2 separate regions of the Homo sapiens genome follow, and region 2 is linked to region 1. The links come from fine-mapping of genetic effects on gene expression. Tissue or cell type: prefrontal cortex. Region 1 holds a variant in brackets; the other region holds the start of a gene. All regions are shown on one strand. Distances are from middle to middle.

Evidence for each region. PIP is the estimated chance that this variant, and not a neighbour inherited with it, causes the effect. A credible set is the group of variants that fine-mapping cannot tell apart.
Region 2: ACSM4 starts here. The variant in region 1 is the best candidate, but not a certain one, in a credible set for the expression of ACSM4 in prefrontal cortex (BrainSeq, PIP 0.66).

What each region holds. Positions count from the first base shown.
Region 1 is chr12:7,353,014-7,358,400 of GRCh38, forward strand. CD163L1 (CD163 molecule like 1) reads right to left here. Exons shown (of 20, transcript NM_174941.6): 19 at 4,367-4,473; 20 at 1,947-2,117. The coding sequence ends at 4,391. Among named protein-coding and RNA genes, the nearest start is that of ACSM4, 52 kb to the left of the region's middle. The variant T/C (reference allele first, on the strand shown) is at 2,048.
Region 2 is chr12:7,301,340-7,306,726 of GRCh38, forward strand. ACSM4 (acyl-CoA synthetase medium chain family member 4) reads left to right here and starts at 2,733. Exons shown (of 13, transcript NM_001080454.2): 1 at 2,733-3,193; 2 at 5,194-5,387. The coding sequence starts at 2,993.

The sequences.
Region 1 (5,387 bases):
AGACTTCAAAGCAGCTATTTAAATAAGTTTGAAAAACTAAAGAAAATCATATTTAAAGAATTAAAGAAAAATCTAACGACAATGGCTTAACAAAGAAGAAGAAATAAAATCTGTAAAAAGAAATCAATAGGAATTCTTGAGTCGTAACATGAAATAAATGAAATGATAAGTTTATAAAAAGGCTAAATAGTAACTTTAAAATTCCAGAAGAGAAAAAAATCGGTAAATTTGTAGTTTAATATAAATGATCCGTCTTAAGAACTTGGAAAAAAATACTGCAGAAAAAGTAACAGAGCTTGTATATCAGCATGAGGCACAGAAGAATAGAGAAAGAGGTAGAAAAATATTTGAAAAAAATAACAGTTGAAAATGTCTCAGATTTGCATATTAATTTGAAAATCCAAATAATCCAATGAAACTTAAGGAAGACAAACACAAAGAAATCCTTATCTAGATACCATCAAGCTGTTGAAAGACAGGGACAAGGAGAAAATCTTGGAAGCAGTAAGAGAAAAATGATTCATCACGTACAAGAAAACAACAATATGATTAATGTTGCATTTAATGGAAGTTTAAAAAATAATGTAATAAGAATGAATAATCTTTATTTTATGTAGGTGAATAATTTCATGCATGTATACACAAGAGAGAGGACAGACAAAAGAGTGACAGAAACATTCCAAAATGTTAACAGTGCTTATTTCAGAATGATAGACTTTTTCATATTTATTATTGTTCTTTCAATATTTTTTAACATGTATTTATGTTATAATAAAAACTTAAACTTTCTAAACATAGAAATAGGGATGGCTCTTTATTTTAGTGTAGGTATCTGTAATAATTTTACTGCAGTACAGCAATATTAATGAAATATATATTAATTGGCTAGGATTAAATTTTAATCGTTAAACTCTCTACTACATTTCCTCATAATATATACTGCAAACATATTGCAAAGAGAGGCCCCAATATTTGAAGTACAATCTAAAATCTTGCTAACTCTTGAGAAGAAGCCTTCAAAACAAGCTTTTCTTGGCATGGGACTAATTATCCTTTCTTACCAGATTTGTGAACTAAAGTCTCCTGATTTTTAGGATTTCCAACTCTTTGAGAGCAGAGACCCTAAATGAATAAAGCTTATTTAGGGTCTTAAAGATTTAAAAATGTCTTTTCTAATCACCTAGGCTTCTTTTTTTTGTTTGTTTTACATCTCTTGTAACAGCTCCATGAAGCCTACTGATTTTTAAAAAAATTATTTTACTATTGTGGTAGATACTTGTTACTATATGTGTTATAATTCCTATAGGAACAACAATATGTTCAAAATCTGAGGAAGCCAAGTTAGAAGCAAGGGCAATTGAGCAAAGCTGTCATGAATAAATCTATCAGGGATAAAAATGAAGACAACTATTCTGACATTCAATTTTGAAAATGCTTTCTACATTCAAATATCTATGGAATTACACTAATTTGAACTACAAGAACAGCCATAAGTCAGCCTCAAATAATGTTTTTCATTGTTCAGCAGAAGTAGGAGTAGGATACGTATGGAGTGGTTTTTCAGTTAGTGATTGTCTGAGTTTGGGCTGCTGTAAGAGAATACTATAAACTGGGTGGCATATAAACAACAGAATTTTTTTCCCTCACAGTTTGGGAAGTTATAAACCTGAGATCAGGGTGCCAGCATGATTCAGATCTGATGAGGGCTCCCTGCCAAGTTGTAGACTGCTGACTTCCCACTGTACACTCACATAAGGGAAGGACAGTGACAGAGCCTCTGAGGTTCCATTATTACGGGCACTAATCCCATTCATGAGGGCTTCACCCTCACGACATGATTACCTCCCCAAAACTCCACTTCCTAATACCATTACATTGGCAGTTAGGATTTCAACATACAAATTTTTTTTTGCGAGGGGCAAAGGAAAACACAAACATTCAGTCCATTTAACAGTGATATACATAATTCAATTTTTATTATCACCAGTCTTTATCAATTTAGCTGTTCTCCTATTGTTCAAGAAATGTTATTTGGACAAGTTTTCCA[T/C]AGGGCAACTTGACTTCCTCTTTATTCATTTAAAAGTTGTTGTCTCCTTCAAAGATATTTAGAGGTTGATCTGAAATTATAAAACAAGAGGCAACAAGTTACTATTCTTCTAAATAAGAATGCTAGCCTACATGAGGTTAAAGTTAAGACACGTGTGTGTGTGCACACACAAACACACACACAACCCACAAAGAATTGATCAATTAGGACAGATTTAGTAGGTGCTATGTATTAATATTTCTTTTTTGTGCATATGCAGATATTATGCAATTTTCTTTCTGCTCCCATAGTCTAGAATTCTGAGTCTCAGAATGTAATAATTTACTTATCAAAGAAAAAGAGTGTTAAATAACACCAAAATTAAAAAGGAAGGTATGATTACATATGGTTTTGGTTTTTGGAACACCTCTGGAAATTAATCTTTCAAAAGTTTTTAGTATGGATTCTGCTAAGTCAGAATTGATGATTAATGAGGTTTAGACAGAACAAAAGTAGGTTTTTTTGTATCATAGAATAATAGACTTGCTCAGTGTTATGAGCTGAATTGGGTCCCCCCAAATTCATATGTTCAAGTCTTAACCCCTAGTTCCTCAGGATGTGATTGTATTTGAAGATTGGACCTTCAAAGAGGTAATTAAGGTAAAATGAGGTCACATGGGTGAGCCCTAATCCAGTATGACTGGTGTCCTTACAAGAAGAAATTAGATCACAGACAACACAGACCAAGGGATGACCATCTGAGGGCATAACAAGAAGATGACTGCCTGCAAGGGAAGGAAGGAGGCCTCAGAAGAAATCAAACCTCCCAATATCTTGATCATGGACTTCTGGCATCCAGAATTGTGAGAAAACAAATTTCCATTGTTTAAGCTGCCCAGTCTGTGGTATTTTCTTTTGGCAGCCCTAGAAAACTAATACACTAAGCACAATAATAACTGCTGAGGGAAAATCTTTTCTAATATAGAACCCTAATTTCAAGTACTTTAAAAACAACACATAGTATTCATTGGCAAACAAAAATTGTGCTAATATAAATTAGTATTTATTAAAATTGGTTTAGAATAATACAGACTCAATCATTTGTTCCTTATATCATGCAGATGAAAACACATAAGATACACTTTAGGATACATTTTAATTTAAGTTTTTCAATGAACTTTTCCAAATAGAGAAATTATCAATAGCATATAAAGAGGAAAAAGGCTTCAATCATAAATATAAGTCTTGGTATTAGAAGAGTTACCATTAAATTATGTTGGAGCTAGTTATTATCTAAATGGTTTTTGTGTACTTTGCCTCTGGTTTTTCTAACTTTTTTTGTTATTATGGTAATAATATATTTTTGAGAAAAAACGGAGAAACTCAAGCCCATTCACTTGGATCACTGGGTCAAATTTGAAATAGTTTTGTGTTGGTGATGTCTAGATATTCCATAATAAAAATCAGGAGATATGACTTATCTTTGCTCCCTGGCATTTATTCCCATAAAAAATTTAGAATTATCTTTGGGCTACGCAGAAATGCTGTTTTCAGAATTGCTAGCTCATTCATGCTAGGAATTAAAAAGTGTTTTCAACATTATTTAGAAAGCACAGTGCTTTCTAGTCCTTTGACTTCATTGAGTTCAATTTTTCTCTCCATCATATTTGGACCATCCACTCTAACTGAGAGAAAGCACTGTTCCTTTTGTGCTGGATTTTCTAGTTGACTTTGATTTTAGTTATTTGTCCTGGCACCAGTAAGTGTTTTAGAACTGCCTCAATGCAACATTATTATATAACGAGTGCTTGTTTTTCTAAACCTTTAGAGAATGATTTCACTGCTATTACGTTAATGTTTTCTCATCAGACAAAGCCACCTACGTTTAATAAATATAAAGCATGTATCATCTGTCAGGCACTGGCGATTAAAGCAATAAGGAGTGATATTAATGCACGGAATCTAGTCTGTACTTAAGAGAATAAATGTGAACATCCTACTCTGTGTAACAAAAATGAACAGAAATCCTAGGAATGGAGGTTATCAATGAGCAGTATGTGAAGCTGAGATGTAATCAACCTCTTCCTTAGTGACAGACTATCTGCAGCATCAGCCAATGCTCAAAACCAATTCTGATAAACTCTGTAAATTTTCTATAGGAACAACTTTCTCATCAACCTCTCTCTTTTCCAGAGGTTAACATAGAATATTTGAAATACTGGGGATATGAACCAGTGACATAATATATGGTAATATAAATATTGGAAAAAATGTATTTAATTCTGCGACAGTGGGAGATTAAATTACTAGTTTTAGTAGGAACAATACTTCTCAACTTACCTGGTGAGCCCTGGAAGTCTAAAGTCATTTTGTGGCTTCAGAGGCAGGAAGAACTCCCAACAGCGATGTGTCGCTAGCATCTTCACAACCATGGTTGGGGGTGTCATCTGAAAGAAAGGCAAAATCTGTATTATTGAATAGTAGAAAACCTCTCTGCAGAGGGAAGAGCTGTTAAGTGCAGTGTTTGATCAGCTGGGAAAGTATAATAGAGCAAGAGGTGACTATTACATAAATTAAGAGCACGCTTAGTTATCGTTTTGAAGTAAAATAATTATCATATTTAAAAGGATAAACCATTAAGTGTTACCAAAACAAATAATACAACTTTTTATCAGATTATCAGATTTGCTTCCAGTATCTTAAAAGCCTAGAATTGTGATATTTATATTTTGATTTTAAAAATGGGACAAGTAAAACTCAATGGTAAGCATCATTGTCTAAAGATAGGAGAGTACTAAAAATTATATTTAGGGAATTGTTCCATTTTTGGCAGGATTGAGAGAAATAAAGAATTGTTGTCTGTGGATAGAGAAATGTAGATAACTAAATTTCAAGAAGGTTGAATATGACTGCATCTTTTAAGAGTAATTATTTGAACTTCTAGTTTCCCATGAAGCCTGTAAGAAGCTTGGGAGTCATTACTCCCAATCGCATAACAAGAAAAAAGGTGAATAAACTGAAAATCAACAACTCTTCTTAGGTCCATCAAAGAACTGATGTCATAGGGCAAACCACTACCACCAAAATTGGAGAGACAGACAGGCAGAGACAGAGAATTGCAACTTATAGAGCAGAAACCACTGTGGAAATCAGTAATGGGGTAGGGAAATCTAAACTGTAATTGACAAATTGCTGTAGGCTCAGAGTGGAAAAGTTTCAGTGTTAAAAACTCCAGTGGACCTACATTTTTGTTTTACCTTTAGAAGCCCTACCAAGTTATCACAGTGAAGACTGGAGCAAAATCATTCTGTGCTTTCTATCAGGAGGAGGGGAAAGTAGTCATTTTGAAGTACATATAAAA
Region 2 (5,387 bases), 52 kb before region 1:
TTTTCCACTTCATCATTAAACTGAGACCAAGAAAGGACAAGATAATGGAAGTGAAAGCTAAACTGCTTCAGACTGATGGAGGCTCAGGTCAGCCCCAAGAGCTTGGAGCACAGTGACAGGACATTATAAGAGGCAGAAACAAGATAACTTAGCAGCTCCAATCCAATAGCTTTTCTTTGCTGTTGTTGTTTGAGACGGAGTCTCACTCTGTCACCCCGGCTGGGGTGCACTGGTGCAATCTTGTTTCACTGCAACCTCTGCCTCCCACGTTCAAGCGAAGTCTCCTGCCTCAGCTTTCTGAGTAGCTGGGATTACAGGAACGCAGCACCACGCCCAGCTAATTTTTGTACTTTTAGTAGAAATGGGGTTTCACCATGTTGGCCAGGCTGGTCTCGAACTCCTGACCTCAAGTGATCTGGCCACCTCGGCCTCCCAAAATGCTGGGATTATAGGTGTGAGCCACTACATCTGGCCTTCCAAACCAACAGCTTTTCTAGGTTTCTTTATATATCAAGAGCTGAAGTCTTCTGTCACAAATGCTTCTGAGGTTTTATTTTTAATATGCAGCATTTATTCATTCCTAGCCACAAACCATGCACTGTGCTAACGTACTCACTAAAACCTTGCAACTACCTAGTGAAGAAGGTATTATTACTCTCATTGCACAGATGCAAATGAGACTTGGAGATGTTAAGCAACTTGACAAAGGTCATCCAGAGAAGCAAGTTTGGATGCAAGTGTGGTGCAAGTGGTATGTGTGTGTGTGTGCATGTGTGTGTGCACGTCTGTGTTTTAGGAGAGGGATGAGAGTCTCACTTTTGGCAGAATGCTAAACCATGAATGTGGTCCACTCTGCTTCTCTTTTCTCCCTTTTCTTTACTCTTGATAATTGCCCAGTTAAGGCGCTATCCCTCTTCTTTTTTTACCTTGGCATAACAGAGAGTTTAACACCAACGGTATTGCCAGCAATAGCTATTTTTGAAATACAGCAAATTGTGTTTGCACCAAATGGACCTGCCACTTATCCAGAAGTCACTCTGAGCAGCACAGAGGACTTGGCAACAACAATGAAGGATGGCACACCCTGCACCCTCCTTTCTATTGTTTGTTATCACCATGCTGCAGACTCAGGTACTCTTTACATTTGCAGATTCTTCCACTCCATTCAAAACAACTACACAAGCCTGAAGGGCAAAAAGGGTGAAGGCATTCACCATCAACAAGAAACCTTTATCGAAGAAGGCAGCACAAGGGAGAATAAATAGCAGAGAAGCTGAGTAGGTTAAGTTCTGAAGTCAGACCAGAGAGGTTCAAACCTTGCCTCTGGTTGCGTCATTGAGCTCATGGTGGCAGAGGCAAGACATGGTTTGTCTCGAGCTGAATGACCTTGGATAAGATCCTTAAGTGTACTTAAACCTCAGTGTCTTCATCTGTAAGATAGAGATAATAATAGCACCAACCTCACAAGCTTGTCATGAATATTGAATGACATCAGAAATGCAAAGTGCCTGCCTACATCAAGAACCTAAAAACTGCCTTTTATTATTGCAGATCTTCTGTGAGTCATGCTTAGTGCTAAGAACACATTACATAGCCTCAACCCATACCGGCTGGGTAGGGAGACAGGGCACATATATGAAAAACTATCATTGATAATACAAAGTAGACAACTGTCACATGAATAGCATAAATGCATGTTACGGAAAACCCAGGGAAGAAATAAACACAAAATTATTTAAAAAATTAATTAGATTACAGATGGTAGTCCAGAAAGAGCAGGCAATTTTACCAATATTAAAAGCAGTTTTTGAAAAAGAAATAAAATCCAAGTCTTCTGGTTCATATGGTAGGATTTTTTAAAATAAAACTATGCCACAATAATATTAAGGAAAATAATCTTAACAACAGCAGTGGTTGCCTGGGTGCAGTGGCTCATACCTACAATCCCAGCACTTTGGGAGGCCAAGGCAGGAAGATTACTTGAGGCTAGGAGTTGGAGGCAAGCCAGCCTGGGTGACATAGTGAGGCCATATCTCTACAAAAAAAAAAAAAAAAAAATTAGCAAGGCATGGTGGTGTGGCCCCTGTAGTCCTAGATGCTCAGGATGCTTAGTCAGGGGGATTGCTTAAGCCTAGGAGTTTGAGGCTTCAGTAAGCTGTGATTGCGCCAACCTGGGTGAAAGAGCAAGACCTTGTTTCTTAATAAACAACAAACAAACAGAAAAACAAAAAAACAACAGTAGTAATTAACACTTTGAAGTCACCTTTTACGAGCTAGGCATTTTATACACATTATCTTATTAAATCCTCACAATAACTGTAGGAGGGAGGTACTATATTTTCCCCTATTTTACAGATGAGAAAATTGAGGTGCAGGAAGATAAGTAACTTGTCCAAAGTCCTACAGCCGGAAAGTGGCTGAACCAGGACTTAAACCCAGGTTTCCAAGCAATCACAATGGGAAGTTGAAGGGGAGAGGAGAACAGGGTAAGCAGGAGCCAGGGAAATGACAGGCCAACTCTTAGTGGGGCATTCATGGCAAGTTAACGGGCCTCCTTTACTGGAAGAGGAAATTCAAGTAGAGGAGTTAGCAGACACAGAACAGTGTATAAAGCAGGCGAAAGGAGGCTCTGAATGCCAGTCCAGACAGCGAAGTTTCTATTTGTCTGTTGTTTGGTTGGGGAGAAGACAGGAACAGAAGACAGGAGTCTGACAATTCTGTAGTTAAGGGGTTTTTTTAGACTCATCTGGTCACAGACAGAATGAAGAGGAAGGGTCCAGTGGCAGGGAGACCAGTCAGTGGCTAAGGCAGCAGCTCTGAGGAAGGATGAGGTGTTTTTCAGGTGTTCCCCAACTTGCCAGGGACACACAGCCACAAATCCACCTCCCAGTCTCACCACAGAGCATCAAGAAACTGATACTCTCTATCCATCTCTCCCTACAGGCTGTAGTACTTCTGTGTCCATAGCAGTAGACAAAGTCCTTTGGGAACCATGAAGATTTTTTTCCGCTACCAGACATTTAGATTCATCTGGCTCACCAAGCCACCTGGCCGGCGCTTACACAAAGATCACCAGCTTTGGACGCCTCTGACTCTTGCTGACTTTGAAGCCATAAATCGCTGTAACAGGCCATTGCCTAAAAACTTTAACTTTGCTGCAGATGTGCTGGACCAGTGGTCCCAAAAGGAGAAGGTATATGACGATGGGCTTCCAGTAGATGCTTGGTGTCCCCTTATCTCTCAGTCTTCCATTTCCTTGTTCTGTGGTCTACCACTTAATTCCAATGCACTCTCTCACCCTCTTGGTTTCCTTTGTTTGTTTTCCAATTGCCCTCCCCTCTCCCCAGGGAAGATCTTAGATCCTCAGCCACAAATGGCTGGGCGGCTCTGGAGCCTTCTCTATCTCCCATCCCCATGGTCGTTCCTCACAGAGTTCTGCCTCTTTTCCTTCTCTTTTCTCCAAGCCCCATGCAACAGTGCTTTGTTTTCAAGTTGGTCACAGGCTTATCGAAAAAGTAGCAAATTGAGTTTTGATTTTATGAATACAGTTATCATTGGAGTAATGAGGAGAGAATTGGAGGTTGACAAGAATAAAGCAAGCGGCCCTTATGCAATGTTTACAGTGCAGCCTCAGGATGAGGTCTCTGTGTACTGATCCTCACCCCATGCCAGGCACTGAGCTAAACACTTAACCAAGCAGTGCTTATCAAAATGCACTGCAGGACCATGGATGGGAACATGATGTTAGGTACTAGACAGACAAGGTATTAAATAACATTGAATCAATTCTTCCTGTTAAATACAGGGGGAAAGCCTTCCTTGAAAGCCATTGTGTCTTTAGCACCTATCATTTGCTAAACACTCTCTTGAATAAAGACCACAGGTAGAAGCTAATCATCTCTAGATAAAATTTAATGGCATAGTTTTGTTTTCAGCATATTTATTTTTCAATAACCTATTTTTTGGCAAGTGGTAATAATTGTCCAATAATGGTGCTGATTAAATATATATTCCTTCTTAAGTAAATGTATACACGTAAAAAGTAAAAAGTGAGTCCATGTAGCGAAGTATACAAAATAAAGAAGAATAGTGCAGGTGCAGGCAGAGCTGACAGAAACAATGAGACTTAAATGACTAAAGATTGAGAAATACTGACCTATATTATTTCACCAAATCCCCATAACAACCTGGGAGGTTTGCAGATGAGGAACTTGACCTCATAGAAGCTAAGCTACTTATCCAAGGCCACACAGGTCCAACAGAACATAAACCCAGTCCCTGATCTTTACAGAGGTTACATCCACAGGGAAGAGACACATCTGTCATATAATAAATTGGAGTCATCTGGAGTATGAGCACAACGATGAAGGAACACAGAGAAGTTAGTGGAGAAACAAAGAGAAGTCTAAGAAAAGCTCACAGACGAACTGACATGTCAACAGGGCTTTAAAGTATTTGCCAGCCAGAGAAGATAAAAGAAGCATTCCAGATAGGGGAAAGAAGGGAGAGTAATTTTTTTCCAGGTAATACATAAGGCAAAGAGGTTTTGCAGTACAGATGACTCACTTTATAGAATGATGGGGAAGAAGTTACCTCTAGAAGTCAATAAATTGATGCCTCCCTCGACCCTGCTCCTTGTGACTTGTGAAAACCACACCTCAGCCTTAGGGTACAAAGAGATGTCTGCTTCCCAGTCAAACTTAGCAGATCCATTCAGGTTATTTGGATGGGAAAGAATCTAATTTAAGCAAGAAAGAAATTTATTCAAGGAATATGGGAGAGCTCACAAAATTGGGCTGGAAGCTGGAGAGTCCATCTCAATGAGGACAGGAATCAGGACAGCTCTCTGAGCATGCGTAAGCACGAATAACCCATAGACAAGTTTTGTACCAACCATTTTCTATCTTTTGATTTCTCTCAGAAAACCAAAAAGTCCAGAGAGAGAAGGTCTGATTGGCCCAACTTTGGTCAAATGCCCACCTACTGCTCGGGGAAGGGTAAAAGCAACCTGAGGGATTCTCTTTTCAAGGCTGTGTTCAATAGGAGAGGGGCAGTTCCCTCAAAGACGAACTCAGGGCGCTGTTAGCAGAATGCACCAGAACCAGTGCCAAAGGGGGAAAACAGCAGATGCCGCATGTAAGAGTAATCAGTCATGTAAACCTACCCCTCTCTTTTCCATGTGTCCCTGGTCAGACAGGGGAGAGACCAGCTAACCCAGCCCTGTGGTGGGTGAATGGCAAAGGGGATGAGGTAAAATGGAGCTTCAGAGAACTGGGCTCCTTGTCCCGAAAAGCTGCCAACGTGCTCACCAAGCCCTGTGGCCTGCAGAGAGGAGACCGTTTGGCCGTGATTCTGCCCAGAATCCCTGAGTGGTGGCTGGTCAATGT